Regions from separate parts of the Homo sapiens genome. Here region 2 is linked to region 1. The links come from fine-mapping of genetic effects on gene expression. Tissue or cell type: whole blood. Region 1 holds a variant in brackets; the other region holds the start of a gene. All regions are shown on one strand. Distances are between the middles of the regions.

Region 1 (16,515 bases):
CATGAGAATCACTTGAGCCCAGGAGGCAGGGGTTGCAGTGAGCTGAGATCATGCCACTGGACTCTGGCCTGGGTGACACAGCAAAACTGTCTCAAAAAAAAAATGCAGTTAAACACTATGAAACAAACACCTGAAATGCCTCCATGGCAGAGATTACTATCAACATTTTTTTCCCTCCCAAACACTGACCAAAACAATTGTGCACACACGTATGCATGTGTATACATGAGTTGTGTGTGCATGTGTGTAGCTGTATCATGTTACCAGCTGCTCAGACATTTCCACATCCCACAAGGCTCCACATGATCTGGCCCCATGTGTTAGTTTCCTCTCGCTGCTGTAACAAACTTAGTGGCTTAAAACAAAAGAAATCTATCCTCTTATAGTTCTAGAGGACAGGAGTCTGAAATGAGTCTTATGGGGTCAAAATCAAAACCTCACTCCCTCTGGAAGCTCTAGGGGAGAATCTGTTTCCTTCTCTTTCCCAGCACACAGAGCTCCATCTCTTGGCTCATGGCCCTTCCTCTGTCGTCAAAGCCAGGAGCACAGTATCTTTCCTCTCTTATGCTGCTTCCACTACATGGCCTTTTTTCCTGTCTGAAACGTCCCTCTGTTCCTCTCTATAAGGACCCCTGTGGTTACACTGGGTCTATCTGTATAATCCAGGACAATCTCCCATCCCAAGGGGCTTCTCTTAGTCACCTCTGCAAGGGCCTCTTCCCTATAAGTTAACATCCACAGGTTCCAAGACCAGGACCTGGTTATCTCTGGGGCCACTGTTCAGCCACTTGCGCCTCACCTATCTCTTCAGCCTCATGTTCGGCAGCCCCCTGCCCCCACCCCACCTGCCCTCTACTCTATAGCTACGTTGCTGTCCTCTCAGATCCTTGAACACACCACAACCTCCTCTTGCCACAGTCTTTGTCACCTACAGGATATCACATGGGCATCAGAGAAAGGGAGAAACCATTCTGTGTAGTAGAAGGGAAAAAGCTTCAGTCTCCTGGGATAGCTGGGAAGGTGTGAGAAGAGCTGGTAAAGCTAGGAACTGTGTTGGTTCAAGAGCCCAGAGAAGACACCTCCAGTGATCAAGCATTCAGGGAGCCATTCTGGGGAGCAGAAGCCACTGAGAAAGGTTAATCTGGGTGACAAAACCTTCCTGTCTCCTCCATGGAACCCTCCATCAGGTCTGCATTGCTTGTCGTGGCTTCTGTGTGAACGTGTGATGGGGCTGAGCTCAGGGTCCAGGTGGATGCGGGTGGCAGGGCGGTGTGCAGACTCGGGGCACAAGGCACCCACTGACATTTAGGTCAAAGGAGGAACAGGGGCAAACAGGGTTGTGCACATCCCTCAGTCATCCAGTTTGGTAGTGGAAAGCCAAGGCATTGGGCTGGGAGAGGGACAAGGGACAGCATGATGAGGTATCAAAACCCAGAAATATCCATTGTTTTGGAGAATCCAACCCACCGCCCACAAGCCAGGGGAGACCAGGTGGTAGGGACGCGCCTGCCTCACGTTGTGGCCGCCTCGAATGTCCAGGTGTCCACTTACAGCTGTGGAGAGTCTGGATGCCAGTGTCATCTCCAGGTTCCCCTTCAGGCCCACCAGGGGCGGCACCAATGTCAAAAGGTCTTTCACCTCCACAAACACAGGCCAGTGCTGGTAGGGAAACAGTAAGGAGATAAGCCAAACACACACATCAGCAAATCTCTGGAAATTTCTTGAGAGAACCTTCAGCAAGTCACTTTTCACTCCCTATAAAATGAACAAATAGGACTAAGTACTTTCTTAAATGGCTTTAAACTAAACAGAAATAAATGAAGCTGTGAAAACCTTTTAGTGCTGTTAACTGAATCAGTATCAGCGGCCGTAAGCACACTGGGGGCTGGGCCAGGCTGGAGGCCAGCGGGTGGCAGCCATGCTGCATGTGCTCTGCACCATGGGTTCTCTAGAGGCATGCACAGGTCCCGGATGAGAAAGATGGGAATTTCTCATGAATGGGGAGGCCTAGAAACACCCACAAGACGGCCAGGCTGAGGAAGGGCCCTGACTCTACCGGGGATCAACGATCTTCACACAGGCCATGCAGGCCCTGCCTCCCTCTGCCCCCAGGTCCAGGGACTGCGTGCCTGCTGCCACTGAGCACCCTGTGGGGCTCAGGGTTTTTAAAAACAGATAGAATATGCCTCTATCCCATTAAAAGTAGAAAAATCAATAACTTCAAAGACAGATGAAAGGGATTCATGCTTCAAGGAAAATGGAAGAGAAAACACTTATTGGCAGAGGTGAAAACAATTCTTAACTGTTTAATGTGCAATTAGATGTTCCCCTAAATCAGTTTTAATGCCCCACCTGATCCTACTGATTTATTTTGCCTGTCTGGCTGCTGCTGAGATCTTTGACGCCTAACACTAGAAGCTTCTCCTGGTTTTGGAATTCTAGACCTGGAAACAAATCCCTGCTTCGTCATCAAGGAGAAAGGCGGCCTGGGATCTAGGCCCTGTCCATCCCCTACAAGGCAAGAGCTGTGTAAAGATGTGCAAATCCACCCAGCCCCTAGGGACTTGGACAGTCATCCATAAGCTGCCCAGCAACAGGCTTGACCAGGCGTGAAGGTGAAGAGATCAGACCAGAGGCCCTTTAAGACTCCTTTCTGCTCTCAGACCAAGGAAGATGAGCACTGTTTAGTTTCTTCCTGTACCTTATCTACCAGGCTGTGGAATTCAGAATCCAGTTCCAGCTCTGATGGAGTTCTGAGTTTGCCCTCTCTTAAAACTTGAGAAGAAAACAATGCCACCAGGCAGGGTGTCCTCCCACACCTCACAGTCTCCTGGTGGCATCTGGCCACAGCTCTGTGCAGCTGTCCTCTCAGCCTGCACACCCTCCACATAGGGTGGGCCTCCGTCCTCAGCAGGGGAACCAAGGCCATCATCAAGTACTCCCCAGCTGGCCTTTGGGCACCACCACCCACACCCTCCCTAACGTCCTGTGGAGCCCAGCGTGCTCATGGGCACTCTCTCTGTCTATACCCAAGACCCGGCACCTACCAACCCCAAAGTCACAGCAAACTCCTCCTTTCAGCCTGCGCCACCCAGCAGCCTTCCTCCTGCTCTCTGAGCACTACTACCTCTGAACAAGTGCCTGTTCTCACCCATCACCCTCAGTGCTGCAACTCTATGGCTCTCACCGTCTCCCTAAAGGAAGTGGTGGCCTCCTGATGGGTAAGCCCCATCTGCTGCTCTCCCTGCAGGGTGGCACTGTCCTCCCCTCCACGGATAAAGCACCTGCTGACAGGCACAGCTCTGTACCCTCTCCCCTGGCCTCTGGGCCTCCACCCCCAGTCCTTTGCCAACCTCACTATCCACCCCATCTCGGCCCCTCTTCTTCCTCCTGACCATGTTAATACCGATCTTCCTTCCTGCTTTCTTTTCAGTTCTCCTTTCTCCTCACACCCTCTCCCTTCCGCAGCTCGAGTACCCTTCCACTGTGCACACAGCACTATCTTCCAGCAGACACCCCACCTGCTCCATGCTCCCGGGGCTTTCAGCAGGAAGCCTGGGCGGAAGACGGCGGGGGAAGCTGAATCCTGATGCATAGTGGTCCCATCCTCCTTGCCAGACGTTGCTATGACTGGTCAGTGAGACCTGAGAAGTCCTGTCTGGTCACATCGGGTATCACACAACCGTGACGGGACTAAAGTCTATGGACACTGGCTGAACTGTGTCCCCCAAAACTCGTATGGTGAAGTCCTCATGCCTAGTACCAAAACATGACTGTATTTGGAGAGACTGTCTTTAATGAGATAATTAAGTTGAAATGCAGTCATGAGGGTGGGTCCTAGCCCAGTATGCGTGGCATCCTCATTAGAGGAGGAAATTAGGACCTAGACATGCACAGAGGGGAGACCATGTGAAGACACAGGGCCATCTGCAAAGCTCAAAAACCAACCCTGCCAACACTTTCATCTCAGACTTCCAGCCTCTGGAACTGCGGAAAAAAATCAGTTTCTATTGTTTAAGCTACCTCCTCTGTGGTATTTTGTGATGGCAGTCCTAGCAAACTAATACAAATGTAAAGTGAAAAAATACTGGGTGACACTGTTAATCCAGTAACTAACCAATTCTGGCACTGTCCTATCTCTAGACTTCTTTACAGAGATAATCAGTGTCTTTGTTTTTACCTAACCAATTCTGGCACTGTCCTATCTCTAGACTTCTTTACAGAGATAATCAGTGTCTTTGTTTTTAAAGTCCCTTTGAGTTAGGTTTCCTGTTACCTGCAGCCAATAGCAAATACACTGACTGATACCCTGGGCTTGTGTGGGTGCCTCCCAGTGTCTATGACTCAGAAGTCTCTGTGAGCATCAGATCTGCCCATCCAACTCTGGCTGAACTTTGGACACCCCACAAGCACCTCAAACTCCAAATCTCCAAACTTCTCCTTGCCACCCGTGTCCTTCCTGCTCTGCCAGCCAGGACTCAACACCTTCTTTTCCCCAATCTGACATTCAAGTCATCACAACTTTTAAATTCTGCCACCGCCCTCTCCAGCAACACTGTAAAGATGCCTATATCAGTCATTGGGGAGGCTGAAATCATCAGAAATAATGATTCTTGCACTTGAGGGGCTCTGAACTCTGCCCACAGTCCCCCAGCTCTCCCCTGCTCCTCCGGCCTCACCCTCGGGGTCATCTTTGACACCACTGTCTGGGGTGGGTTTTGTGGCACAAATATGACCCCATCACTCAGCCACCTGTAACCCTTCACTGCCAACTCCTCTCCTGAGTATACCTAACACATAAGTCCTATGAACCCCAAAGACACACAGGCATATGTCAAGAACAGTCAACGCAAACCCACAGCACTGGAGTCAGAGGTGGGGCTGAGATGACTAAGCACAGAGGACTCTGCTGGGGCTCTGCTGAGGATGCCCCAGGTGGGGCTGCAAAGGCCCCTGTACCTTGAGGTGGTCCATGGAGCTGCACAGTTGTGTGCTCTCCTACGTGTCTATGCTACCCTTCAATAAAACCAGCAAGACACTCATTTTAACATAAAGCAAACACCTGCTACACTCAGTGCACGGCACACCCTCTGAGCAGAGTAGACAGAGCCCCTCACTCCTGCCCAGTATCACTGTCCCCATGACAGCGGCCACCCCTGTCTCTCACTTTCCACAAATGCACACTATCATTCACCTGTATCTTTGCACACAAATCCCTCTGCTTGGAATGTTCACGTCTTTTCAGGGCATCCTGGAAATTGCTACATTACCTTTAAAGTCCAAATCAAATTGTCCTGCTCCTCTGCAGATCCCCTGGCCCCTAGGAAGAATGACTGCTCCCTCTTCCTTCACAGGCAAACACCTCCTTGTGGCCTCCACTCCCTGCCCAGCCCTCCGGAACGCCTAATAGTCTCTCTCCCCAGCATCAGCAGGGTGGTCTCAGGGAAGGAGCGACAAGCTCTCAGCACAGCTCTAGGATGAGGCTATTGGGGGAACAAGTGGGTATTCAGGTTGCAAGCCCACAGAAGCACAGGCTTTCTAATGGGGGGCTGGCCAGGATGCAAAAGGCCACCCCAGCCCCAAAAGGGGATGAGCGTCCCATCAACTGAGACGAGCAAGCAGAAGCCACCTGGGAGGCATCGTGAGCTCAGATTAGGAGGCTGGGTGGCCTGGTGGGTACAGACTGCCCCTCTCCAACTTGGACCCAGGGGCACAGAAAGACTCTGAGTGGCCATTAGGAAGGAGGTGCTGCATACACTCGGGAACATGAAATGCTACTTGGGGTGTCCTCATGGGTTGAAATTTTAAATTTATATTTACAGATTAAAAAGCAAAACTGCAGGCCAGGCACGGTGGCTCACACCTGTAATCCCAGCACTTTGGGAGGCTGAGGTGGGTGGATCACGAGGTCAGGAGTTCGAGACCAGCCTGGCCAACATGGTGAAACCCCGTCTCTACTAAAAATACAAAAAAATTAGCTGGGCCTGGTGGCGGGCACCTGTAATCCCAGCTACTTGGGAGCTGAGGCAGGAGAATCATTTGAACCCAGGAGGCGGAGGTTGCAGTGAGCCGAGATCACGCCATTGCATTCCAGCCTGGGCGACAGGGCAAGACTCTGTCTCAAAAAAACAAAAAGCAAAACTGCATACTATAAACCATATATGTATATGTTTATATGTACATAGAAAATTGTCTTGAAAGGTCCACAGCAGCGGTGATAGAGATGAAGGGACAGCCTTCCTCCATTGCTTGGGTGTATTTTCCAATTTTTCTAAACTGACTCTACGAAATGTTTCAGTTGACAGATAGCACAAACCTCTCAATGATTCCAATACGCTGCCCAAACCATGCTAGGGGAGAAACAGACTGTGATAAGCAAATCTCCCTCAGCACACGCCTCCACTGCAGGGAGACCGCCATGGCCCTCCCACCTGCACCCCCAGGGCTGCAAACCTTGTCCTTTTTTACCAGGGGCCACGCCAGGATGCTGCGGGCTGGGCACACTGCAGCTCTGCCCACAGGGACCACAGCATACAGACTCAGTCATCTGGTCCTCACAATTCTGTGAGGTGAGGGCTTTCATTATCCCCATTTTACAGATGGGGAAATCAAGGCAGAACAGTGTGACTAAAAATCCCCTCCACTGGTGAGTGGCAGACTCTGCCTCCTGAGCCCACATACACTGGGAGGAAGGCGGTTTGAGCTCCTTGGGCTGAGGAGGCACATGCAGGCTAAGGTTCTGACAAACCTCCATCATTCTGCGAATCTCTAATGCTGAGGTCTCAGCGTTGGAGGTCCCTCCTGCCAGCCTCGCTGACACCCGGGACGCCCAAGCAGCAAGGGCAGGTTGAGGGCTGCCCTCCCACTGTAGAGGCCCCTCATGTCTCCAGCCTGCCCTGTCTGTGGTGCCAGGAGACCCAGTCTGTGTGTCTCCCACCCCTGATCCCCCAAACACCCAGTACGCACTTGAATGGTGTTCATCACCAGGCCGGCTGTCATCATGCACAAGCCGGACAGCAGAATGGGCACCACGACCTGGCACATGATGGTGAAGAAAGATTCAGGCAAGACCCCATGTGGGGACCG[G/C]GTAAGCTCACAGCTGAAGCCTCGCAGCTTCTTGCCCTGAAAGCAAAACTCCAGATTCAGCTGGGTGACCACCATGGCCAGGCAATGCACCACGATCCCAGGAGCACGAAGTCAGAGCCTGGGGTGCTCCAGTCCTCTCCTCCTGGCCCACACCAGGACGCTGTTCCCAAGAAGTCCACACAAACAGAAGCTTCCCAGTCACCAGGTGCCCTGTGCCTGCAGAGAGTTCCCCAACAGCCCCTCGGCTGAGGGCCAGCACAGATGAGTGAGGAACAAAGGCCAGTGTGACTCACGGCCTCATTACAGAGACTCTGCCAGGCCCTGCTGTCCCTCCCTGAAGGTCAGGCTCTCCTCAGACAGTGGCTGTGTGTCCGCCGGGACCTCCCTCTGCCAGTCTGCCATGGAGGCTCATGGTCCCTCTGCACCGGCCTTGACAGCAATCAGCAGCCCAGCAGGCTGGTCCATACTGGCTTGGGCTGGACAGAGCTGAAGCCCACGTGGTGCCTGGCCTTGGTGAGTGCCCACACGGAGGTCTGCTGCCACCTCGCCCTGTACAAGTGTGCTGGGCTGTTCCCCTCCTGGCAGAGGAGGGCCTGGGGAGAGATCAGCACAGAGGGACTGCCTCCTCAGGCCAGCTCTACAGACCTCGAGTTTTATTCCTCAAGGTCAAGCAGTCTATGGGTCCCCAAGCAGGAAGCCACGCCCTGGGTCATCTCAAGTTGTGTCCAGCCAGGGGGTTCATGGCCACAGGAAGCTGTGTTCACAGAAAAAAACGCAGGCCTGTTCTCCCTCCATGGCCTGGAAGACTCATAAACATGCTTCCAAAGTGGCCTCGCTTTCTTCAGCTACAAATGTCAGACTGGCCCTGCTGACCCCTCCTCACCCAGAGAAGGAGAAGGGGCTGGGAAGCCACCTCTGACTCCTGGGGTTCTGTTGTTGGGTGTGTCCTCTGCGCATTCCACAGGCACCAGGAACAGAATGTTCAGGCCTGAGGGCAGGCTGGGGCAGGCAGAAGCCCGAAGCTGGGGGTCAGACTCACACCAGCTGAACCCAGCACTGTGGTCGGGTCTAGGCCTCACTTCCACTCCCATCCCTAAACTGTCGCCCTAGTGGGCACGTTACCTGGTTCTCCCGTCGGACTATCCCAGGCTTAAGTGCAGACCCCAGCCTGGAGTCCACTGCCCTCCCCAGTGTGGATCCTACCGGCCTCCCCAAGGCTGTCCCTGCAACCGAACTCCAGACGAATTTCTCCAGCACCTGTTCCCCTCGTGCCCCCAATATTTCTTGCACTGCGTCTTTGTGCACACCCTTCATTTACTCATTCATTCAACAGATATTTTTAAGCCCCTCATAGGAGCAATGCATAACTGGCCCTAAACTCCAGCACAATTCCCACTGAGAGCTAGAGTTTCTGACCCCCTCTTCCCTCTGTCCCCACAGCTTAACCGAGAGAACAAAGTGGAAGAGACGCTGTGGTAGTCAGTTTCTAGGCATGGATCTTAAGAAACTGACAACTTCTATGTCCTATCTCTTGGGCTGCTCATGCTCCCAGCCACTCTGCTGTGAGGAAGACCACGTGGTCACACATAGAGGCCGTATGCCAGGGTCCTGCTCACAGCCCAGCCTTGCACATGAGTGGGCCGTCTTGGGCTGGCCCAACAGCCACCACGCACGCAGAGCAGGCGGTTCTTCTCACCGGGCCCTGCCCAACCTGTAGATTCCGCATCAAACAATAATTGGCTTTAAACAAACTGCTAAGCTTGGGTGTCCTTCGTTACATAGCCGTAGTTAACTGCATTTGGGGAATCTCTTCCTCATCCGTGATCTCGCTATTTCAGATGTAGCAACTCCCAAACCTCTCACAGCCCAGACCTCTCCTCTGAGCTTTCAGATCATATACCCAGGCTCTGGTAGGGATGAGCATGTATCTCACTCCACCAGTCTCTCAGGACTGCCACTTCCAAGCCTGCCTCTCCCAAGTGGCCTGCCTCAAGGAAAGGTGCAGCCAGAAATGCAAGCCTCACTCGGAGCCCCTACCATCTCAGTCCCACATCCACTCTGCCTGTCCCCACACCTCTCCCACAGCTGTCCCCCACTCCTGCCCACAGACGCTGCCTTCACCACGGCCCTTTGTCCCTCTAATCTGTCTCCTCACAAAACCACTGTGTGCTCTTCACAGGCACAACCCACAGGTGCACTGTGAGGATGGCCCTTGCTCACACAGTGTGTGGTCAACACACTGCCTGAGAAAGGAGCATCCGGACCCCTTGCAATCTGGAAAGACACATCCACGTGAGCCTCCTTCTTGCAAGTACATGGTCATATGCTGCAGCTGCAGACAGAACTTCTCATGACCCTCACGGGGGCCATGCCCGTGCTCCTCCCCTCTGCTGCAGGCCAACACATCACCCAGGCCAAACGTCTGCCAGGCCTCATGGCCAGCTGAGGCACCTCCTCTCAGCCAGAGCCTAACAGCTCTTTCCCCAGAATTCCCAACGTACTCTCTGAACCTTCCTGAAGACAGGTCCCACTTTTGCATAACAGAAGCATAAAATGCAGGTGTATCTGCTCTCCCTCCCTGGCACGCACCCCTCCTGAGAACAGAGCCCTTCTCACTGCTGCAATCTTGGGGCTTCTCCATGGCTCCATTCCACAGATCAGTACTTAGGGCCTAGTAATTGCCAGCCTCCGCCCTAAATGCCAGGGTACACTGCGAGCAGAACAAACACAGGTTATCAGTCAAAAAAGAAAGAAAGAGAAAGAAAGAAAGAAAGAAAGAAAGAAAGAAGAAAGAAAGAAAGAAAGAAAGAAAGAAAGAAAGAAAGAAAGAAAGGAAGGATGATCTGTGATAAGTGCTCTGAAGCAAACCCAGGGCATAACAAGGGCACAGAGCAGACTCGGCCACACGCAAACAGTCACTGCAAATGAATGAAGGAATGCCCGTAACACTCAGTCACTGCAATTGGATGAAGGAGTGCCCATTTGTTCCCTTGTGCAGCACTCTGTATTTCTCAGAGCTCTCTCACATTCTATCATTTTCACAACAGCCCTGGGATGTTCACAGGAACTATAGCATTCTGTTTTGCAAATGAAGAAAATGAACAGTTTCCCAAGATCACACAGCAAGTTAGTGTCAAAGGCAGGCCGAGACCCTCAGCTTCTGGGCTGCCTGCCAACCCCATCACTGCCCGTCATCCATGGTTAGGATCAGTTTGTTCAAACAGGAGATTGAACCGGCAGGAGGCAGAGAGAAATGGCCTGATTCTGAGAGAAGTGTTGCAGAAGGTTACTGGTTTAAAGGCATCACCTGGTTAAAGACAGAGTCCTCTGTCTTTAAGGCTGGCCTAGTTTCCCTGGCTGCTCAAGGCCTGTTGTGGGATGCACATTCCCAAGGCATACAGCTGAGCAGCCCCCAAACAGGTGATCACTTCCTTCAGGTGTCACCACCTCTCACAGTGTCATCATAGTTTCGGACGTGGTCAAACATCATCACACAACGTATAATCATACACAGTGAATCCTGGAACCACCCTCATCAGCACAGGAGACGCAGAAATAAACAACCATTTGCAGACTCTCATATAGAAAGAGGTGTCTGACCAAGTAGTTACAAATCATTACAAAAATGTTTCTCAAATCTGTTTAAAAATTGAGTGAGAGACCGGGTGCGGTGGCTAATGCCTGTAATCCCAGCACTTTGGGAGGCTGAGGCGGGCAGATCACCTGAGGTCGGGAGTTCGAGACCAGCCTGACCAGTATGGAGAAACCCCGTCTCTACTAATAATACAAAAATTAGCTGGGCGTGGTGGCGCATGCCTGTAATCCCAGCTACTCGGGAGGCTGAGGCACCAGAATCACTTGAACCTGGGAGGCGGAGGTTGCGGTGAGCTGAGATCATGCCATTGCACTCCAGCCTGGAAAACAAGAGCAAAACTCTGTCTCAAAAAAAAAGTGAGAAGGATACACACACACACACACACACACGTGCATGCACAGTGAAACGTTCAGAAGGATATATACCAAAATGTTAACAGTAGTTGCCTTTGGGTGGTGGGTTCATAAGTAATCTTTATAATTTTTTGTCTATTCTGACAATTGTGACTATTTGCTTTTATAAATAAAAAACTATCAAAAGCAAATAATGTAACTATATAAGAAAAATGACTTTCCTGTGAAAACCTGAGAAGAAAACATGTCAACACAGCTCACTGGGTTATAATCCAGAAAATCAAAAGTGTGGTTTTAAAAATAGCTCAGTAGCACAGCAGAAGAATCTCAAAGAGCTTGAACTAGATTCCAGCTGCACGGAGCAGCAGGTGGAAGCCGGGTCCAGCGGTTTCTGTGTGACCTTCTCTGGGCCTCCAACCCACCCCACAGCCCACAGCATGAGCAAGTGGCACAAGATCAGTGGTGCTCACCCATCAGGGGCACCAGGACCACCTGAGGAGCTTCTGCAACAGGCCGCCCAGGCTCCACAAAGACCACAGGATCAGAACGTTGAGGACCACTGATCTCTGCCCACCACCTCGTTCTTACTGGGGTGTGTTTTTAGGGGAGGGTCCACAGAGTGTGGGCAGGGGCTCTGGAGTACATTTCTGACACTGCAGTGGGAACTGCTTGTTTACCAGGAGCAGTTTCCAACGCAGCATCCAATTCATTTCTCAGGGTCACCTTGACCCTCGGCAGGTTCTGGGCCAGATGGTCATTCTTACAGGCATGAATTCTTCCCCCATCTTGTTCAGGTCTCACAGATCAGGCCAATTAAATTTTAAATAACTGTTAAGGTTCTTCTTTATTTTCTGCTTCTGATCTCGACTGGCAGAACCCACCCACAGGTGAAGATGAAAGACTTGTCCACCCCCTGCCAGGCTGGCCTGCTCCCACACTGTCTCCAAGCAGCCTCTCTTGCCTCCCCTGCAACACCTCCTCCTGGGGAAGGGGGATCTTCTTGGCCTCCCTCCGCAGGGCCGCTCCCACCACTTGCTGGAGCACACAGCCCTCATTGCTATCAACGTTGACCCCAGAACCTGCTGTGTGAGCGGCATGAGGGCAGGGGTGTCTGCCTGGCACAGGTACACAGTATATGCTGCCTGAATGAGTGAATGAATGAATGAATGAACGAACTGCTGTGGCCCTCACCTGTCCAGGGCTGGGTGTCAAGGGTCCACCATACCCTTAACCCAAGGGTGAGACCCCCTCCCTCATTGATGAGGTGAAGAGGAGGTGACCATAACAACAGGCTCACAAACAGATGGGCCCACCGTGACTGAGGACACCTGGCCAGCTCTCCCTGCCTGTTCTTTGCTTGCTAACAAGCCCACACAGCCAGTTGGGATGCAACTGCAAATTGCTGGCTTGAACCTCTGCTGTCTCTCTTGGGCTCTGTCATCTCCTCCCACCCTAAAGGGTTATTTTCGCCCCCATGACGAGAACCACTGTTAACTGACTACAGGCTGGTGTGGGGCTGGTGGGTGCTCCCTGGCACTCCTGCCACCTGGTCTGACTTACAAATTGGCTTGACAAGATGAGACTCCACAGACCCTCCCCTGCTCACCATTAAAACAGTTAATACTACCCAATGCAAATTACAACAGGACCTTCAAGGAGGGAAATTTATTATGTGAGACTTAAACAGGGTATGTCAATCCTCCTGCTTCTCCTTTACACAGGCCAATATGGCTCATTCCTAAACCTGGGGAGAACAAAAGGGTGCCTCCTGGTGGATTACCACCACCTTAATGGCATGACCCTGTCCATTCAGACCCCCACATCCAATACCGAATATTATTGAAATCACTGACTCCATCCAAATCAACTGGTACTTTGCTGCTATAGACTTGGCTAATACATTCTGTTCAGTGCCTATTTCACCAGCCTCTCAGACACAGTTGGCCTTCACCTCTAAAGGGACACTAGATACCTTTTCCAGGCTCCCCACAGGGACCTCCGCAGCTCTGCCATCACACACAGTCATGCGGCCAAGGTCTCCCCTGCATCTGCCTTTCTCAGGAGCACAGTTACATTACACTGATGATGCCCTCCTCCGCAGAGGCTCTTTTGACACACTCATTAAGGGCATACAAGTAACTCACAAAGGCACTCACAATGAGAGAGGGGGCCATCACCCTACATGTGGTGCGAGGCCTGGCACCTTGGTTAAATGCCTGAAAATTACTTGGTAAACTGAGAGCCGTCCCCAACACTGCAACAAAAGAAGTATTAACCTTCTCAGCATCCACAACATTAATACAAGTCTCCAATATCTTTTAGTTCTTTTTGGGTTTTGGAAGCAACATATTTCTCATCTACAAATTTTACTTACGCCCATTTATGCTGTCATCTGCAAAGCAAGCCAACTCAAACAGGCCACTCCAACAAAAGGTTCTAGGATCTGCCCAAGTTAATATCAGCAGTTACTCTTATTAGTGCCCCCAGAAACGCCTTCATGGAAGAGAGGGGCATTAGCAACCTCCCCTCAAGCCCTGGAGTCTACAGGCTGATGGCCGTAAGTTGTCTAGGGGCTGCGGATCCAGGGAAATGCTCTCCTCCACCCTGCACTGTGCACCATCAGAGGAGTAGCTGCTGGACACATGCTGGGCTCTCCTGGAAGCATAGGTTCTCACAGACGTTGTGCCTGTGACCCTCCATTCCCACTGCCCATTATGCCTTCACATGTGGCACCCCCAAGCTCAGTACAGCTACTGAGGTCTCCTTAAAAATAGAATGGAGCCAAACCTGGGCTCTCTGGCATATGCCACCTGCAGGAGGGGTGGTCTCCCCTGTCCTCAGTCCTTTGCCAGACGCCATGGTGCCAGAGGAGTCACCCCTCCCTGGGCCTCTTGGCTACCCAAGGCCCCTTGAGATGGGCTGGCCATTCACGGTGGGAGCTATAGGCTTCACGGTGGGTGCTGCCGTGTAATATGCAAGGGAGCTCAGGGGAAGGCTGCTGCTTCCCATCTTAACCAGGAAGTCCCTGATAAAGAGCAAACCTCTAAGGGTCAGCGCAGTGGCCAAGCATCAGGCAATCAACAGCATAGGCGCCCTGGCCTGCTGGCAGCTCCCTCTGCACCTGGGCACAGGCTCTTGGCCCAGAGCCTCAAAGATGCCCCACTTGGGGGTAGAGAGCTCTGGGAATTTCCTGCCTCACTGACACACAAAACATAAAACAGGGTAACAAATGCCTACACATATACTACAGCCACACACAAGGCCTCAGCCAGTCACTCCTGATCCTCTCTAAAGTTCAGACATGGCCGACGGTGGCCAAGGCCCTCATTTCCTTCTTGAAATATAGAGCACCAGCTCTGCAGGAAGCACCCAGTGGAGCCTCTACTTCCTGGGTGGGCCACAGGCAGCCAGGGTTAGCAGGAGGCACATGGGCCCCTCACTTCAACTCCGATGAAGTGACAGGTGGCAAGGTGACCTCCACTGGGTGTCACCACTGTCACAGGCACTGATTAAGCCAGATCCAACCCCCCCCCGGGGACACACACTCCCCATACCCAGGCCACCAAATCCCTCTGTTGCCCTTCCTGGACAAGAGCACCACATGGTACTCTCCCTCCTGGCCAAGGGTCTGTGCTGCTTCCTGGAGAGGCTCTTCTATTCCCTGGAAGTCTCAGTCACCACCAAGACTTAAGCTGGCATCGAGGCATCAAGGGGTCAATGGTGGGGTAAGGCCTAAAACTACGAAGTGCGGCCTCAACACCTGGAGAAAGCAAGATAATGTGAGCGGCGCGTTCCCCTCCTGACTCTGCTCCTGTGGATGAGGTTCCCAGCCCAAGAGCCTCCTTATCTCAGGGCAGGAACTGTCCCTCCACATCCCCGAGGAGCACGCTTCAGTTTCTGCCACCCTGTGGAATTACGCATATAGTCAGGAATGGAGGGCAGGTTTCCCACTCTCTTGTTATGACAAATCTTGCCCCCCACATCCCCTGCTGACTCACTCTGCTCCCCAGTGGCCCCGCAAGGTGTGCAGCATCCTCCTGCCTGGGTGACTGGTATGAGGACTAACAAATTGCCGTGGTCCTCACCTGTCCAGAGCCAGGTGTTGAGTGTCCACCATCCCCATAACCCTAGGGCAGGACTCCCCACCCTCACCAGCAGAGTAAAGAGGAGGCAATTAAAACAGGCTGCTCTCACCTCCTCCCGCACCCCCAGTCTTCTCTCTCTGCCCACATGAAACACCCCTCCAGCCAGCCCTCTTGCCCTCCTGGCCTTTCTAGACCGCTCGGTGTCTCTGTAAGGCCATAGCTTGCCTGGAGACCCCCGTTCTTCCCGGCACATGCACACAATGCTCATCCCAGTCCACCCACAGAGCCCAGGACTGCATCAGTTTCTGGAGACTGCTGCCATTCCTGCCTGCTCCACGCATTCCAGTGAGGAGTCCTGGTGGAATTTCAGAAAGATTAACTTGGAGGAGCTTGGCGTCATCAGGTAAACCCTTTAAAGGGAGCAGGTGCTTCCTGAAGTCAGAGAGGGATTTCACCCAAGGGAGGTTTCTCCACTGCTGCCTTTGAAGATGGAAGGGCCACAAGGCAAGACGTAGGAGTGGCCTCGAGAAGTGAAGTGCAGCCCCTGGCTGATAGCCAGCAAGGAAATGGAACTGCAGTCCTTCAACCTCAGGGAGGAACCCAGCACCAGGAGGTGAGTTCTGAAGACAGGACTATGCTTAGAAGTGGATGTTCCCCCAGAGCCTCATGAAGAGAATGCATCCTGGCCAGCACGTGGATTTCAGCTGTTGAGACCCTGAGCAGAGATCCCAGCCATACCATGCCTGCCCTCTGCCTTACAGAACTATGAGCTAATCAATGCGTGCTGTTTTAAGCTGTTAAATTTGTGGTAATGTGGAACACAGCGATATAAAACTGATACAAAAACCACATGTTGCCAAATCTTCTGAGTTTTAAAGAGGAGCTGAATATAAGCACTTTAATGAAAAGCTTCCAGTTTTGAAATGTTTGCACTGAACTGAACACTAACCAGCCAACAAACCGATGCAGACCAGCACGACAGCTGTGTACACCCACTTTGAACCTCTCATATATGCAATGAAAAGAAAGCAGACTTGTAGCAGAGAGTTTTTCTTCTTCATGGGAACACATCCCTAGTCTCTAATATGTGCTGCCCTGTGCACGCACATGGGCAGATGGGCACCTGTATAAAAAGCAGCTTCTGTTTCTAAGGAAGGCATAGGCTCAGAGCCTTAGAAGAAAGATGACTGAGACTGCATTTTAAAAAATGAATGCATAGCAAAAAGCCACCAAAAGCAAAGTCAAAAGATAAATGGAAAAAAAAGGAAACATTTATAATCCACATCACAATGAAATGATCAATTTCCTTAATATATACAAAGCCCCTAGGTATCAATAAGAAAACAGAAAAACACCCCATAGAAAAATGAGCAAAGAATATAAATAGAAATATCAA
Region 2 (16,515 bases), 26 kb after region 1:
CTTAGAATGAAATACAGGTGTAAATCCCAGGGACTTTGGATTAGGCAACAGTTTCTTAGATGTGATATCTGAAGTACAAGCAACCAAAGAAAAAACTGACAAATTGGATTTCATCAAAATTTGAAAGTTGTGTTTCAAAGAACACTCTCAAGAAAGTAAAGACGATCCACAAAATGTGCAAGTATTTGCCAATCATTATATCTAATGAGGGTTTAGTATCCCAAATATATAAAGAATACTTACAATTCAACAATAAAAAGACAATTTAAATGACAAAGGAATTAAACAGACATTTCTCCAAAGATGTACAATGGCCAATAAGCACATGAAACAATGGTTTCACTTAACATTAAAAGATGCTCAGCTTCATTGTTAGAAAAATGCAAATCAAAACCACAGTAAGATACCACCTAACATAATGTTGTCAAGCTTCATCCATGTTGTTACATGAATCAGTACTTCATTCCTTTTTACAGCTGGGTAATATTCAATTACATGGACATATCATATTTTGCTTACCCACTAATGAGTGACAGACATTTGGGTTATTTCCACTTTGGGGCTATTATAAATAATACTCCTATGACTATTCATGTGCAAGTCTTTGTGTGAATATAAGTTTTCTGTTCTACTGAACTGTACATTTAAAAGGGGTGAATTTTATGGTATGAACTTTATATCACAATAAAAAAATTATGAATCATTTATGAGATAATATTAAAGCAAGCACACTTATACTCCCACTAAGTTCAAGAAGCAAAGCATGACCAGCCTCTCCACTCTGAGCCCCTCTCTGATAACAACTCATTCCTCCCCACCCGAGGTGATACTAGCCTCACTCTGGGGATGACCATTCCTCGATCTGTTTTATTTTTTCTTTAGTTTTACAATGTGTGCAGCCCTAAGTGTTACAGCTGAGTTTGGCCTACTTTGCGATTTAGATCAACAAAGTAACACTCCACGGATTCTTTTCATGTCCAGTTTCTTTCAGTTGACATTAGATTTCTGAGATTCAGCCATGCTGCCGAATCTATTTTATTGCTGTAGAAAACTGAACTGTATGACTGCCCCACAATCTCTTCATCTATTCTACAATCAATAAACCACCTCAGCCTCCTTTCCTTTCCAAAATGAAAATAACTGGATTATTTTTCCAATTACAAAAGTGACATGTGTTAATAAAAAATATAATTTAGACAATACAAAATAATATAACGAGGCTGGGCACGATGCTCATGCCTGTAATACCAGCACTTTGGGAGCTAGAGGCAGGTGGATCACTTGAGGCTAGGAGTTTGAGACCAGCTTGGCCAACATGGTGAGACCTCATCTCTATCAAAAAATACAAAAAATTAGCCAGGTGTGGTGATGCACACCTGTAGTCCCAGTTACTCAGGAGGCTGACGCAGGAGAATCACTTGAACCTGGGAGGCGGAAGCTGCAGTGAGCTGAAATCGCACCACTGCACTCCAGCCTAGGGGACAGAGTAAGACTCTGTCTCAAAAATAAATAAATAAATAAATAAAATAACACTTTAAAAATCACTGACAATTTCACTATTCCAAAATAATCAGTGCAAGTCTAGTGTATATCCTTCCAATGTTTACCCACACAGACACAGGCCCACACACTCACTGTTTTTTTTAATCCATGTTCTAGATCCTGGATTTTATTTGATAGAAAGTATACATCTCTGGCCCGTGTTCAGTAAAATGTCTACATGCCTGCTTGTCATCCTTGCTTGTCAATCACAGTTTCAGGTAAGGAATGAGGTGGTAGGCTTATGCCTCCCAACTGCTGGTAAAACATTTTCCCAAGGAATTTATGGATTCAGGAGGAGCTGACGGAAGAACTGAACAGGGATGTGTGCCCCACACTGTGCCTTGCAGCAGGGAGAAGCTGAGAGTCATGGCGCCTCTTGCCTCCTCCGTGCTTCCTTCTCAGGGGCCTGAATGGAGCAGGTGATGAGTTAGCAAAGGAGCCGCCGGCCTGGGCGACTGTGATGTGCAGTGGGGACAGGGCACAGGGAGGCATCTCGAGTTGGCGGCACCCTCGGTGGCAGGAACGGTGCCCCTCATCCAGCCCAGAGAACCTGGGCCCAGGCGGCACCGGTGTGGCTCCAAGAGGCAATAAACAGAGATGGGAACTGCCTACTCCCACCTGCCTCCCACCTCCCTGAAGGACCTGCAGGGGCCCAATGCCAGGGGCAGAAAATGCCTCCCTCTCACCACACCAGGCCCCTCCAACTCTCCACCCCACTCCCACAGGCAGGAATGGCCACTCTCCTGGCTAGGCAAGGCCACTGCTGCATCCCTTAGGTCCTAACAGCAGAACCCATTCCACCTTCCTCATGACCTTCTCGTCCTCAACCTTCCAGCCTGACCCCTCAGGCCAGACCAGCCATTTTCTTTAAATTCCTATCACATCCTCTGTAGCAATGCTGGTAAAACTGAGCCAGGCTCACACTGGAAGCCTGGAGATCATGGAGAGACAGCTAGTGGAGAAGAAAGGAGAGGAGGAGGACTTGGACCCTGCCCACACTGGGAGGAACCCGTACCACACAGAGCTGAGCTATCGGCCGGCTCTCCAGGCCCCACTCTGCTTCTCTGGGTGGAAGCCCCAGAACCATGAGGAGGAAGGATGCTTGGCAGAACAGGGTGGGGATCATGGGGTCCCTGCAATGCCAGATCCCTAATCTTTTCAAAAAATAACAGACACAGCTACCGATGACCTATGCAGTATGCCTTTACCTCCTTTAATCCTTACGGGACTGTGGGAAGGCTAGACTATTAACGATCACTTTACGCAGAAGAGGAAACAGAGAATTAAAAGAGCACCAGAAAGGCCAGTGTCTCCCCTAGGCCTGGGACCCTACCAGGGTCCTCTCAAGGGGTCGCACCTACAAGGAACCCCTCTCTCCTGCCTCCTCAGTTTCTCCCCTCTACCTCTGTGGGATCATCTGATGAGAACAGAAACTTGCTCTAGGATCTGCCTCTATAAACCCAGCCTTGACGTCAAGCTATCTCTCACTTCATTCCCCTCCTCCTCTTCATGGCAAAACTATACAAAGAATCATGCCCACAGTGTGTTCTCACCTCCCCTCCTCTTCTCCTGATGCAAACTGTTCTTGCCAAGGCCAGTGGTCACCCGAGCAATGCTACAGGCACCCAGACGCCCAAGGCTTATGGACAGGAACAAAGAGAGGTGGTTAACTTTTCCCAGCTCCCTCTGCCAGAAAGGCAGGGCTTGGATGTCCTGAGCAACCAGGGAAGTGGACAGCCAGAAAAAAATTTGAACCTAAATCAGGGATTTAAACTCCTTAAGGTAAGGGAAACACACACACACACACACACACACACACCCACACACGATCAGGGATTTAAATTCCTTAAGGGTAAGGGACACACACACACACACACACACACACAATAGAAAGCAAAAACCAAAGGGGAAAAATGATTAATTTAGCTACATCAAAGTTTAAATATTCTGTAGGACAAAACTTCTAAATAAAATTTAAAAGCAAGCAAAAGCCTAGGAGAAAATAGTTGGACCCAATACAAGAGACAAAGGATAAGTGTGCAAAAAGAATGAAGAACTCCTACAGAGAAAACCATGGAGAAACTGACACAGGATGGGAACAAGAGCTCAGCTGGAGAAACACAAAGGCAGCCTAGACAGCCACCTGAGAAGAGGTTAGGGAAATAAAAATGAAAGCCGATGGAAAGATACATTATGTTTGAGGAATGGAAGAATTTCAATGAAAATGACAATTTTACCCAACGCAATTTACAGATTCAATGCAATCACTACCAAAATACCAATGTCATTCTTCACAGAAATAGAAAAAACAATTCTAAAATTTATATGTAACTACAATAGACCCCAAATAGCCAAAGCAATCCTGAGCAAAAAGAATAAAGCTTGAAGCATCATAGTGACTTCAAAATATACTACAAAGCTGTAGTAACCAAATCAGCATGGTACTGGCAGACACATAAGCCAATGGACAGAAGAGAGAACCTAGATATAAATCCACACACTTATAGCCAACTCATTTTTGACAAATGCACAAGGAACATACTCTGGGGAAAGGACAGTCTCCTCAATAGATGGACTGGAAAAACAGGATATCCATATACAGAAGAATGAAACTAGACCCCTATTTCTCACTATATTAAAAAATCACATCAAAACAGATTAAAGGCTTATATGATTTAAAACCATGAAACTACTAGTAGAAAATATTGGGGAAATTTTGCAGGACATTGGTCTGGGCAGACTTTTTGTGTAAGACCTCAAAAACACAGGCAACCAAAGCAAAAATAGACAAATGGGATTACATCAAGCTAAAAAGTTTCTGCACAGCAAAGGAAACAACAAAGTGAAAAAATAACCCACAGAATGGAAGAAAATATCTGAAACCACTCATCTCACAAGGGATTAATAACCAGAATATATAGTACCAGGAATTCAAACAACTCAATATAAAAAAAATCCAATTAAAATATGGCCAAAAGATCTGAATAGATATTTCTCAAAAGAAGACATAAATGGCTCACATATATGCAAAAAGTACTCAACATCACTAATCATGAGAGAAATGCAAGTCAAAGCCACAATGAGATATTATCCCACCCCATTTTAAATGGCTTTTATAAAAAAGACAGGGAATAATGGACACTGGTAAGGATGTGGAGAAAGTGTTCCTCGTACACTGTTAGTGGGAATGTAAACTAGTTCAGCCACTATGGAGAACAGTATGGAAGTTCCTTTAAAAACTAAAAGCAAGCCAGATGCAGTGGCTCAAGCCTGTAATCCCAGCACTTTGGGAGGCCAAGGTGGGAGAATAACTTGAGGCCAGGAGCTTGAGACCAGCCTGGCCAACATGCCAAAACCCCATCTCTACTAAAATACAAAAAATTAGCTGGGTGTGGTGACACACGCCTGTAGTTCCAGCTACTTGGGAGGCTGAGGCATGAGAGTCACTTGAACCCAGGAGGTGGAGGTTGTGGTGAGCTGAGATTGTGCCACTGCACTCTAGCCTGGGCAACAGAGCGAGATTCCATCTCTGAAAAAAAAAAACAAACTAAAAACAGAACTACCATATGATCCGGCAATCCCACTAATGGGTACATATCCAAAAGAAAGGAAACCAGGATATTGAAGAGATATCTGTACCCCATGTTTCTTGCAGCACTATTCACAATAGCTAAGATATGGATCAACCTAAGTTTCCATACCAGATGAAAGGATAAAGAAGATGCGGTACATATACACAATGGAGTACTATTCAGCCATAAAGAAGAATGAGATCCTGTCATCTGCAACAATATAGATGGAACTGGAGGTCATTACATTCAGTGAAATAAGCCGTGGACAGAAAGACAAACATCACATGGCCTCACTCATATGTGAGCGCTGAAGGAGGGGATCTCAAGGAGGTAGAAAGTTCAATGGTTACCAAAGCCTGTGGCGGGACAGGGGGAAAAAGGGAGGATGGTTAATGGCTAGAAATACACAGTTTGATGGAAGAAATAAGAAATCGTGTTTGATGAATCAATACAGTGACTATAGTTTACAATAATCTATTTTATATTTCGGAATAGCTAGAATTCAAATGTTTCTGGAATAAAAGACCAATCTCTAAAATGATGGATGTCTATATTGCACTGATTTGATCTTTACAAGTTACATGAACGTGTTAAATTATCACAGGCAACTCAAAAATATGTACATCTATTATGTGTCAATAAAATTTTTTTAATATAAATAAATGAACCTGGTGTGATGCACCTCACCTCACCACCACTAGGGCAAGGGGTGGGGAGAAGGGCCTGGAACACAGCCACAGGGCTCTGGGTCTGCCTCTGCCAGAGGCAACTGGGCAGTGACCACTCCAGGCCACACATCCTCACTCAGCCACAGTCTTGGTGAGTCACTCACACGCGTGCCTGAGGAGGTTAACCCAAGAGTGCGCAGCCACTGTGCTTGGTGACAGCAAACACCAGAGCGGCAGGTGCTGGCGCAGCCCTGATCCGTGATTCATGCTGGGAACACGTGTGCAGCTGTACCTAGAGAGCCCCAGCCCTGGTCCACCCTCACTGTGCCTGCACATGGTGCCAGAGGAAGGCCTGGCCAGGGTGACCCGGGAGCAGGGCCCAGCTGGTGTCAGCACCACACCTGCTCTGTGCCCCTTGCAGGGTGGGGGATCTCCCAGCTGTGGACATGGCCAAAGGCCCCTCAGCTCCACCTGAATGTTGGAGTGTTTGCAAGGAGAACATGCTCCAATGTCCCTGTGTCACTGACAGCTCGTGCAGATGAACAACCAAGCACAGGCTGGAGGAGGCTCCTGTGGGAAAGTGGGCTGTGGGCCAGGAAACCTCTAATCCCAGAGCCCCAGGGAGGAGCCAAGATGCCAGAAGATGCCAGTGGAGGCATTGCCTCCAAGGTCCCCACAGAGGACATTGGGCAATGTCTGCACATGGTTTTGGTTGTCCCGACAGGGGGTGATACAGGACAGCCCCCCAAAACAAAGAACTGCCCCACCCCAAATGTCAGTAGTGTGGAGGCCGAGAAACCCTGCTATGGGGCAGTGGTCAGAGACCCTTGTGCCTTGAAAGGGGCTAGGCTGGGCAGGACAGGTTGTGGACCACCTGGGGCCACAGTTCAGAGCCACGCCTGAGTCTGTGAGGCTGCCCACCCTCCCAGCTGCCAGCATGGGGTTGGGGGGTATCCGCCCCCATCAGACTGAGGAGGAAACGGACACTCTGTCACCCAGAAGCATCCCTGTGTCACCCTGTGAGGTTGGCCTTGGACCCAGGCCTCTAGGCGCCCCGTCAGCACCCCAGTGCGAACACATCCTGCCCGGGGACCTGGACCCAGCAGCTCACACAGACCAGGGCTCGCCCAAAGGCAGGCAGGCAGGGCCACTGCTGACCACGCACCTGGCTGGTCGTGATTCTGGAACTAATGGTTTCTGCCTGGCAGGGAGGCCGCCAGGACCTCTGGGCTTCACCCCTCCCCACCTTCACAGGGGACCTCGCCTCAGTGGGAATGTTCTGGAGCCGGAACCCAAGGTTGGAATCCCAGCTCCTCCCCTTTCTAGGTCTGTGACCTTGGAAAAATTAAACTTTCTGTACCTCTGTTGCCTAATCTGTGAAATGGGGTAATACTACCTACTGTGTAGGGCTGTGAAGATTAAATGGAGTCATGCATTATCATCACAGGGCACCTGGCCCATCCTCAACCCCAGTTCAGACTCCTCAAAGCCCTAAGGTTTCAGATCAATGGTCAGAACCACGAGGAGGACCTGCTAAAGACAAGTATGGGGACCCACCCCCAAGGTTTAGGATTTAGAAGGTCAGGGTGGGGCTGGGGAACCCGCATTTCTAGCAGATCTCAGGAAAGGCAGTGCTGCTGGTCCTGGGACCACAGTTTGAAAACCACTGGTGTAAAAAAAGCCTTCTAAAAAAAAGTGGGATTTGATCACTAAAGTCATATGGAAAAAACTGGAAGAAAGAGGAAAAAATAAACAAATAAATAACGGGATTTTAAAGAGACCTATCCCACCGGCTCTCCTGGATGGAGAGAGTGTGGGACTCTGAGACAGACTCCCGGCTGGGCACCCCCAGGAGGTTTTCTTCACCAGAGGTTTGCACCGAGCCCACCCAGGACAGTGGGCTGAGCCTGTGGTAGAGGCTGGCGGGAGGTCTGGCTGAGGCAGCGAGGGGTCCCTGCGCGCGGGCGCTGCAGGAGTCACGCGTGTGACATCCAACCAGGAGCCGTGCCCTGAGCAGGCCAGGAAGGAGGAGACAGGGCCGCTGAATGCACACCGCAGCGGTGTGGGGAGCGGCCTCAGACACCTAAGGGTAGGACCGGCCGGCTCCCCCGCGACCCCCAGCGCCTGGGTTCTCTCCCGGCCTCCCCGAGGCGTGGCCTACCCCAGGCATGGCCCCACCCCGCCCCAGGCCGCCCCTCCGACCCCTCGTGTTTACCTCATCTCCCGCGCGCCTTTCCCCCACCGAGTCCCCCAAATCCCGGTCCCCACCTGACTCCCCCTCCCGCCGAGCCCCCAGGGCCCGGCGCCCGGCTCACTCGCCTCCCGCGCACCCACTCCCGGGCGCCCTCTCCCGCGCGCCTCCCCGACCCCCCTTGGGCCCCAGCTGACCCCACCTTCCGCCCCAACCCCGCCCGGAACAGGGCCGCGCTTACCGGGTCCCCTCCCAGGCGGCGGCGGGAAAGAGGCGGGCGGAGGACGCAGGGGCGGGCCTGCGGCTCAGGCAGGAAGCGGGAAGGCCGGGCCTCCCTGGCCCCGCCCCGGCCGGGCGGCCGGACCTCGGACGACTTGGCGCTCCGGGACAGCAGCAGACGCCCAAGCTCCGGCAGCGCAGAGCCCCGCCGGGGGCCCGGGGGGCTGGGAGCCGGGGATCGCGGGGACGGAAGTGGGGGACCGAGTCTCGCGAGCCCGGGCCCTCCTCGCAGCTGGGGCCCCACTGGCGCCCCCGCGGGAGCGCTACGGGAGAGGCGCCTATGCGGCTGCAGGTTTTATTATGGAGCTGTCAAGGTAGAAAGGTACGGAGAACGGGAACCCACCGACAGCCAACTTCCCTTGGGACCCGCCTTTTGCTTTAAAAACAACAACGACAAGTCTGTGCTTCACCCCACACATGCCTTTCGTTTTCCCTTTTTTCCCAGAGTAATTTTAAAGCATCCCAGTGGATAAATTCTCCTTTAAATACTCGAGTATGTTTAATCAGTAAGGCCTATTTTTTTAAACATTCTCATAGTATTACGGTCACACCTAACGAAATTGGCAATTCCCAGTCCGGGCCTGAGGGAGGCCTGATGGTTCACAAGACTTGGTAAAATATATCATTATATTTTAAACCAAAAAATAAATGATAAGGCACCTCCCCGTTCCCAACCACCAAATCATCCGAATGGACTTCTTCCTCAGCCAGGACTTTTAGAATTTAACCTGAAAAACTGGTTCAGGCCATAAGGGGAAGTGGAGGCCGAACATGCCTCATTATCCCTCTCCTGCATTAACATCAACACAGACTTTAAGTCTGATAAGAAACATTTTACAGCCTCTTCTCTCTGAAGCCTGCTACCCTATCCGAATACTTCATCTGCGTGATAAAACACATTGGTCTCCACAACCTCTTAACCCAGACATTCCTTTCTTTAATCCCAGGTCTTTGGACAAACTCAACCAATTGTCAACCAGAAAATGTTTAAGTTGACCTATACCCTAGAACCACCCTCCCCCTCTTTGAGTTTTCCTGCCTTTCTGGATCAAACAAATTTATTTCTTAAATGAACTTAACTTGAAGTCTCATGCCTCCTCAGAATGTATTAAACCAAGCTGCACCCCGACCTCCTTGGGCACATGTTCTCAAGACCTCCTGAAGGCTGTGTCACTGGCTGTGGTCACTCATATTTGGCTCACAATAAATCTCTTCAAATATTTTACAGAGTTTGACTCTTCCACAATAATTTGGCACCCAGCGTGGGGCCTCAGAGAAGACTCAGGACCCCAAAGGAGTTGCCTGAACTCGGAGCGAAGATACCAGTGGGGCCCATTGAAGCCTCCCAGACTTCTAGCTTCTCCCCCGATGGAACTGGTTAAGTTCTCCTGAGCCCCAGATCGCCCTTTGGTTGACAGTCCTTCGTTTAGTGTGAGCTGGTTTTTCTCCTAGGAAGTTGTTGTTTAAGGATTCTAATTCTAGTTCAGAGACACATTCTAAAGGGTTTTCTTTATTGCTTTTTCTCCCAAAATTAATCTTGATTCGGCTTGTCTGCGCATTTGTGTGAGGAATTGAACTGTTGTTTTCATAGGTAAATGAGAGACTGAGTTTTCTCAACTCCAAAGAGAAAGGCATTTGCTCCTCCCAGCCAAAACGTGCTCCTGGGTGACTGGGGGCCTTGTGGGAGTGTCTGGGGGGGGGTTGACATCCTGTGACATGCAGCAGCCCTATGGGGAAATCCCCAACAAAAATTAATTTTAAAAATGGCTTGTCCAGGAATGCATATAAGGACTGATCACCCATCATTTTGAGCCCTCTCAAAGGTAATAGACCTCTGGAGAGAGAAACTGAGACATGTAACAGGGTGGAAACAACTCAGTGGTGACACATGGTGGGGTCCTGCCCACAAGCAGCACACATTGATCCACCACACAAAAACCCTAGGCCACAGCTCAGTTCCTACTTCTAAGAAAAAAAAAGGTGGGAAACAAATGATCTAAGAATGAGGAGAAAACAAGGAGAATGACCTCATTTCGGGCACTCTGTTGGTTTTATGGTGCGTCTACTTGCCAGAGCTTATGTAAAATGGAAATATAATGATCCTTGTGCACATTTACATTAAGGAAAAGAGCCCTAAGGTCAACCTGTACACTATAGAGTTCCTAAGTTCTCTTCTTCTCTATATTTTCTGCCTGCTTTAAATCTGCTTTTACTTTTGTACTGAAATTAAAAACCACTGTTTGGATCTAACCTATTTTTCTTTTTCTTTGTTTTCTTGTTTTTTTTTTTTTTTTTTTTTTTTTTTTTGCAAGCTGGGGAATTTGTATTTATCTCATGGCTAAAGTTCTGAAGTAAAAGCTATAGGATCTGTGTGTGTGTGTGTGTGTGTGTGTGTGTGTGTGTGTGTGTATTTAAAAGGATTTTATAATAGACTTCTATAATTTTGTTTAAATGGCAAATTAAATCCATTTTAATTTCCCTCTAGCAAACCAGACTGTCTCTTGGTACTTTGAGATGTAAATTTTGCTATCTGATTTTTCACCTAAGAGTTGTTTCCTTTAATATGCAAATGTAGGACTATTTAGCTGACAACTGCCCAGGGTGATGAAACAGGCTATCATGAATTTAAAAGTCTAAGGGAAAAAGAGGTCTTACAAATACATAAGATGTACTTCTATTGCCATGCCTAATACGCTATGCATTTATGTGTTGTGTACACAATGTGTCACTACTAAAAATATGTAAAAGAGCTCTAATTAGCTTAAGTAAAAATAAAAGCACTTAAATACTTGATCAAAAAATACTAATCAATGCTTTTCAAGTTCACGTGACAAGTAAAATATTTAATAAATAAACTGTCTTTAAAATCATTGGTAAAAAAAATTAAAATGTTCTAAGAATTGTTAGTATTTTTGTTTGCATTTATTGATCAAGTAGCTTCATGCTTATTCCTTCAGAATACTATAAGATTAGCCATAGGGTTATAAAACTATAAAACCCAGCCCAAGACAGAATGATCTTTGCTTGTATAATTTTTGATAAATAAGACATGGAATATGGTTGGTTTAATGAAAACAGCTAAATCATGAGTTACTGGAAAAAATACTCTTATATTTAATCATAAGTTCATTATTGAAGTAAACACCTGAAATTCACAGCTATAAAAATGGTTAACAGGGAAATAACTTCAATAATGACTGTCACAGTTTTTGTTAATAATCCAGGTAAACAAATAAATTAATCAGGTAAAGGTAATGGAATAAGTGTTTGTAAACAAACGTCATATAATTTAGGACCTCAGGTTATTAATAAGTATTAAGTATCTGGGTAATTTCCAATTTAAAAATTATAGAAAAACTTTTTTTTAAATGGTAAATATCTTTTTCTAATTCAAAGCTTATTTAAAGGTTATGTATAAAACAAGGTAAAAGGAACTAGGAAATAAGAGATGTAGAGAAACATAAGACATAAAGAGGTAATTTTTGGTAAAGAAGGTAAAAAGGAAAGTGATACTATATAAGAAAGAATCTTGTGTAGCGAATTTTTGTCCTAAAATAAAATGACTAGGTTGTTCAAGAAAGATATTTAGGACAGAACAGAAAATTTAAGCATGTTGTGAATGGTCTATGTAAGTTGTAATAAGGTTAGTAAAAGGAATTTGTTTAAAAAAAAAAAGATTGTATAATGCAGTTGGCTATGATTAAGAAGAAATTATAGTAGTCTTTCTAGAGATGGGTCTTTGATATTTAAAAAATACACTAATACAAAACTAAATAATTGGCTAAAACAGTATTTTATTACAAATATTGACTTATTTTTAATGTAATAAGTTTTAAATTTATAAACTCTATAATCTGTCTCTTTGACATTCTGCAGATTGATATCTCACAAGCTCAGCTCTTTCTCTTTTGAAATGGCCTTAGATAATAGATCTCTCCTTCACCTTTTGTTGGTTCCTGTAACTTAATAATAGTTATAGGATAATTAACAAAATTATCTGAAGGGAGATAATTTTTTTTTGAAAACAGGCCAATAAAATTAGATCTTGTAGACCTTTTAATTCTGCATGCCTGTTATATCTTTATCTGTGTCATGTGGAAGTGATATTTCACTACCAAACTACATGAAAGAGCTCTAACCTAGTAACTTTAAAAATGTAAGTGCTTATCAGATTGGTAGATGCTAGCTCAGATGACTTTTAATTCACATGATCTTGGTAATCTTTGGTAAAAGTAATTTGGCAAATTTAATCTCAAAACTCTCTAGTAATTTAAAATCTTAAAGTCATGTTAAAACCTCAGTTTTTATCACTGGAAATTTTGAATTACTAAAAGTTAAAATAGGAGCATAAAATATGTTTTTGGTGAAGTTTATAAAACACAAGGATGTTGATTTTGCCAGAAAAGGAAAGTAGGTTTTTCTTCGCTAGTTAAAAAACTACTTAAGAGTTGCTTTAGAATGAAGAAAAAAATATATACAGATAAAACTAAATAGAACAATTAAGCCAGAGCAACAAAAGTTAACTCAGACCTGTGGCTATCAAAAAGATAGTCAATGTGGGGGAAGGGCAAAACTATTTAAAACCAGAGGGTATAATATAAAGAAATTGTTTCATTTTGTAGATTTGTATCATCAGCTTCTTAAAAAAATGTATAGCGGATTGTAAAAATAACCACTTTAAGGACAAAATCCTTAATTTTAAATGCTACAGAAATTAAGAGCTTGTTTGGGTTGATGCAGCACCCCACAGCTCACTATTGAACAATCACTAATGAGTATATATGATCCAAATGCAGAAGAGGTCATTCCTGAGAGAACAGTTAGTCTAGTGGACCAGATAAATGCCACCATAATGTCTGGTTGCCCTGAGAAGGGGACTGCCCAGCTCTCTGTATAAAATACCAAGTGAAACAAGCACCTCAGATGAAGCAGTTAATATGCTTCATGTGCAAGCCATATAACTGGATTTAGGATAACTGGTATATCCTTCCACCAAATATGCCTATTACCGAAGTCATGGTAAATTTGGGGGTTGAGGGGGTCCCTTTTACATGGTTGCCCCTCCCACAGAATCATAACGACTGCTTGAGAAGCCTTATCAAATTTGCTATCCCTCATGAGTTTTGCAGATGCAGCTTGCTGCTAGGAACCCAAACCTTTTTTCACCAGAAAAGGTAAAATGGTCTTGGGGTAGAAAAAGGTTCCTGGGACCAGGACATAAAAACATACAGGTTAATAAAATAATGAAATGTAAGATGTTTAAACAAACTTTATGTAAGGTAGTTGTAACACCTTTTACCTAAATGTCTTATGAAAATGGGTACTGCATTTGACTGAGGGATGTTTCCCCTTTCTAGTGCTATAAAACTAAGGGCATGTAAATCTGCTCTTTTGAGAAATTGGACACACCAAATGGGAACTAGTAAGGTTTTCTGAACCCACATACTATAGGGTAGAAGCTGGAATACTAGTCAGGACAAATCCTCCACTTCATATCGTTTGTGGAACATTTACTGGGGCTGATGGCAAAAGACTGAGTACTTCCCAATGACAAAAACTAAACTAGAGAATTTCCAGTTGAGGGCCATTTACTGCCTTAATCTGGAATGTTAATTGAAGCTATCCCTATGTTAATGGAAACAATGGTGCCCAAAAGAGTTCCATAATAAAATAAAAATGGTTTACATAGAATCTTGCTACCTGGGAATATAAGGAGGAGATACTGATAAACAAGGAGCCCTTTCTTAGGACTAATTCTAACTCTGGGAGGAGTTGCTGGATTCCACAGTGCCTGATAGACAGCTCTCATGAGCTGCTTGGCTTGTGAATGGTATTTCCGAGGTAAATAGACATCTCATTTAAAAGATGCTGCTCTAGTTAAAGAAGGTCAAGAAAATCTTTTTTTTTTTTTTTTTTTTTTTTTAGTTATTTGAGTGAAGTATGTTTTTTAAGCAAATGTACCTTTCTCTCTAAGTTCTCCAAAATCTGGATTGTGGTTTTATGACAATATAGTTATTTGTGTAAGTTCAATAAAAGTCTTTTAAAACAGAACAGTTGGAGACAATGGTTAATGTACAAAGACTTTAACTAAAATAGTATATTTTTAGGTAAAGTTCCAGCAAAGCCAACTTAGAAGGAGCCTATGTGGCTAATCAATTTTTGCTGAATTTTATGCAAATAATCAGGACAAGTATAATGAGCCTAGAACTTACTTTACACAGAAATTGGTCTTACTATAATTTCTCTTTAGTAGAAAAGAAAGGAGCTAAAAAATGGTTTTAAAGGAAAAGTGTAACACTTGGCAGTAGATTTTGACCATAATTTTTGTTTTTTAAAGTGTAGATTAAATCATGAATTATTTCTTGGCTACAATAATCCTATAGAGAGTACCAGGTTATAATTTTTCTTCATATTTTTAATTGGTGCCCTAATTGAATAGGCTCCTTTTTCTGTTCTGACACACAAATTACTCTTATAATTGTCAAACTATAAATGTTATTTCTCTCTCCTTGTTTTACTTCCAAGGAAACCAAAATCATGGTATTCTGAAGGCCAGAGATGAGTCCCTCGTTTAGCATCCCACTGGGCCCAGACCTGTTTCACTACAAATGCTCTGCTGCTGAAACTATAAAAGCACCCTCCCTCTAGGCCTAGCAGCTATTGAGGAAGAGTGGGGCATGTGAGATTGTAAGGGCCAATTTTGAGGGATAAAATTAAGTCAAGGTCAAACCCTCCAAGTCAATAACAGATACGAAGATGCCCTCTTCCGGCCTTTATCCCCTGCTTGTCATGGAGTGAGGGGCCATGTTCTCTGGGAGCCTCTGCATGGTACCCCAGCTGCCTAGGACCTGAGAGGTCCAGTGGCTCCAATCCCCTTCTAGGATGTGTGCCCAGATCAGCACACACCTACAAAGGCAGGTTGGGGCATTGCTGTCTCTTCTCACAGGGCCACATGGAACTCCAAGGAGTCCAAGAAGTCTACATTTGAACTTGGCCTTACAGATCTCTATGAAGGTACATTTGTCAAGGCCAGAAGATAGACTCCATTTTACAGTTGTTTGGTTTTATTTATAATGTAGACCAAAAAGTATCTGAGACAGGTCTCAATCAGTTAGAAGCTTATTTTGCCAAGGTTAAAGACATGCTCATGACACAGCCTCAGGAGGTCCTGAGAACGTGTGCCTTAGGTGGTCTGGCTACAGCTTGGTTTTATACATTTTAGGGAAACAAAAGACAACACATGAAAGATTTACATTGGTCAGGCCCAGAAAGGAGAGACAACTGGAAGTGGGCAGGAGGGGTCGGGGTGGAGGGAGAGGCTTCCAGGTCACAGGTGAATTCAAAGACGTCCTGACTGGAAATTGGTTGAAAAAGTTTATCTGAAGACCTGGAATCAACAGAAGGGAGTGTCTAGGTTGAAATAGGGGTTGTGGAGGCCAAGGTTTTTTTATGCAGATGAAGCCTCCAGGTAGCAGGCTTCAGAGAGAGTAGATTGTAAATGTTTCTTATCAGACTTAAAAAGTTGTCAGACTCTTAGTTAATTCTTTCCTGGATCAGGAAAAAGACATGGAAAGGGAAGGGGATTCTCTACAGAATGTAGATTTCCTCACTAGAGACAGCTTTGCAGGGCCACTTCAAAATATGTCAAAGAAATACATTTGGGGGTAAAATACTTTGATTTATTTTATGGCCTGCTATCTGTCATGTTGGTGTCTTATTGCTACAAAGAGTCTGCTCTGTCAATCTGAAGGTCTTTGTGTTGATGTTAATGCTGGTCAGCTGTGCCTGAATCCAAACAGAGGGGTGTATAATGAGGCACATCCAACTCTCCTCCTTCCCCATCATGGCCTGAACTACTTTTTCAGGTTAATTTCAGGTCCTTGGCCAAGAGGAGGGATCCATTTGTTACCCATGAAAGAGATCTGAGTTACCCTGAGTTACTGGCAGCAAATTTATACTGGTCCTGCTGGGAACAGGCCCCCCAAAACCTGGCCATAAACTGGCCCCAAAAGTGGCCATAAACAAAATCTCTGCAGCACTGTGACATGCTTTTGATGGCCATAACGCCCACACTGGAAGGTTGTGGGTTTACCGGAATGAGGGCAAGGAACACCTGGCCCACCCAGGGTGGAAAACCATTTAAAGGCCTTCTTAAACCACAAACAATAGCATGAGCAATCTGTGCCTTAAGGGCATGTTCCTGCTGCAGATAACTAGCCAGACCTACCCCTTTATTTCGGCCCATCCCTTCATTTCCCATAAG

Evidence for each region.
Region 2: it holds the start of SLC41A3, and the variant in region 1 is fine-mapped to the expression of SLC41A3 in whole blood (INTERVAL, PIP above 0.99).

The regions. Positions count from the first base shown.
Region 1 is chr3:126,049,392-126,065,906 of GRCh38, forward strand. SLC41A3 (solute carrier family 41 member 3) reads right to left here. Exons shown (of 11, transcript NM_017836.4): 3 at 1,552-1,659. It overlaps LOC124909425 (a long non-coding RNA gene), which reads left to right and starts at 7,430. Exons shown (of 2, transcript XR_007096055.1): 1 at 7,430-7,599; 2 at 8,527-8,837. RefSeq lists an enhancer at 9,441-9,940. The variant G/C (reference allele first, on the strand shown) is at 7,087.
Region 2 is chr3:126,075,879-126,092,393 of GRCh38, forward strand. It overlaps SLC41A3 (solute carrier family 41 member 3), which reads right to left and starts at 8,246. Exons shown (of 11, transcript NM_017836.4): 1 at 8,215-8,246. ALDH1L1-AS1 (ALDH1L1 antisense RNA 1) reads left to right here and starts at 8,337. Exons shown (of 8, transcript NR_190231.1): 1 at 8,337-8,574. RefSeq lists silencers at 7,894-8,003, 8,044-8,593.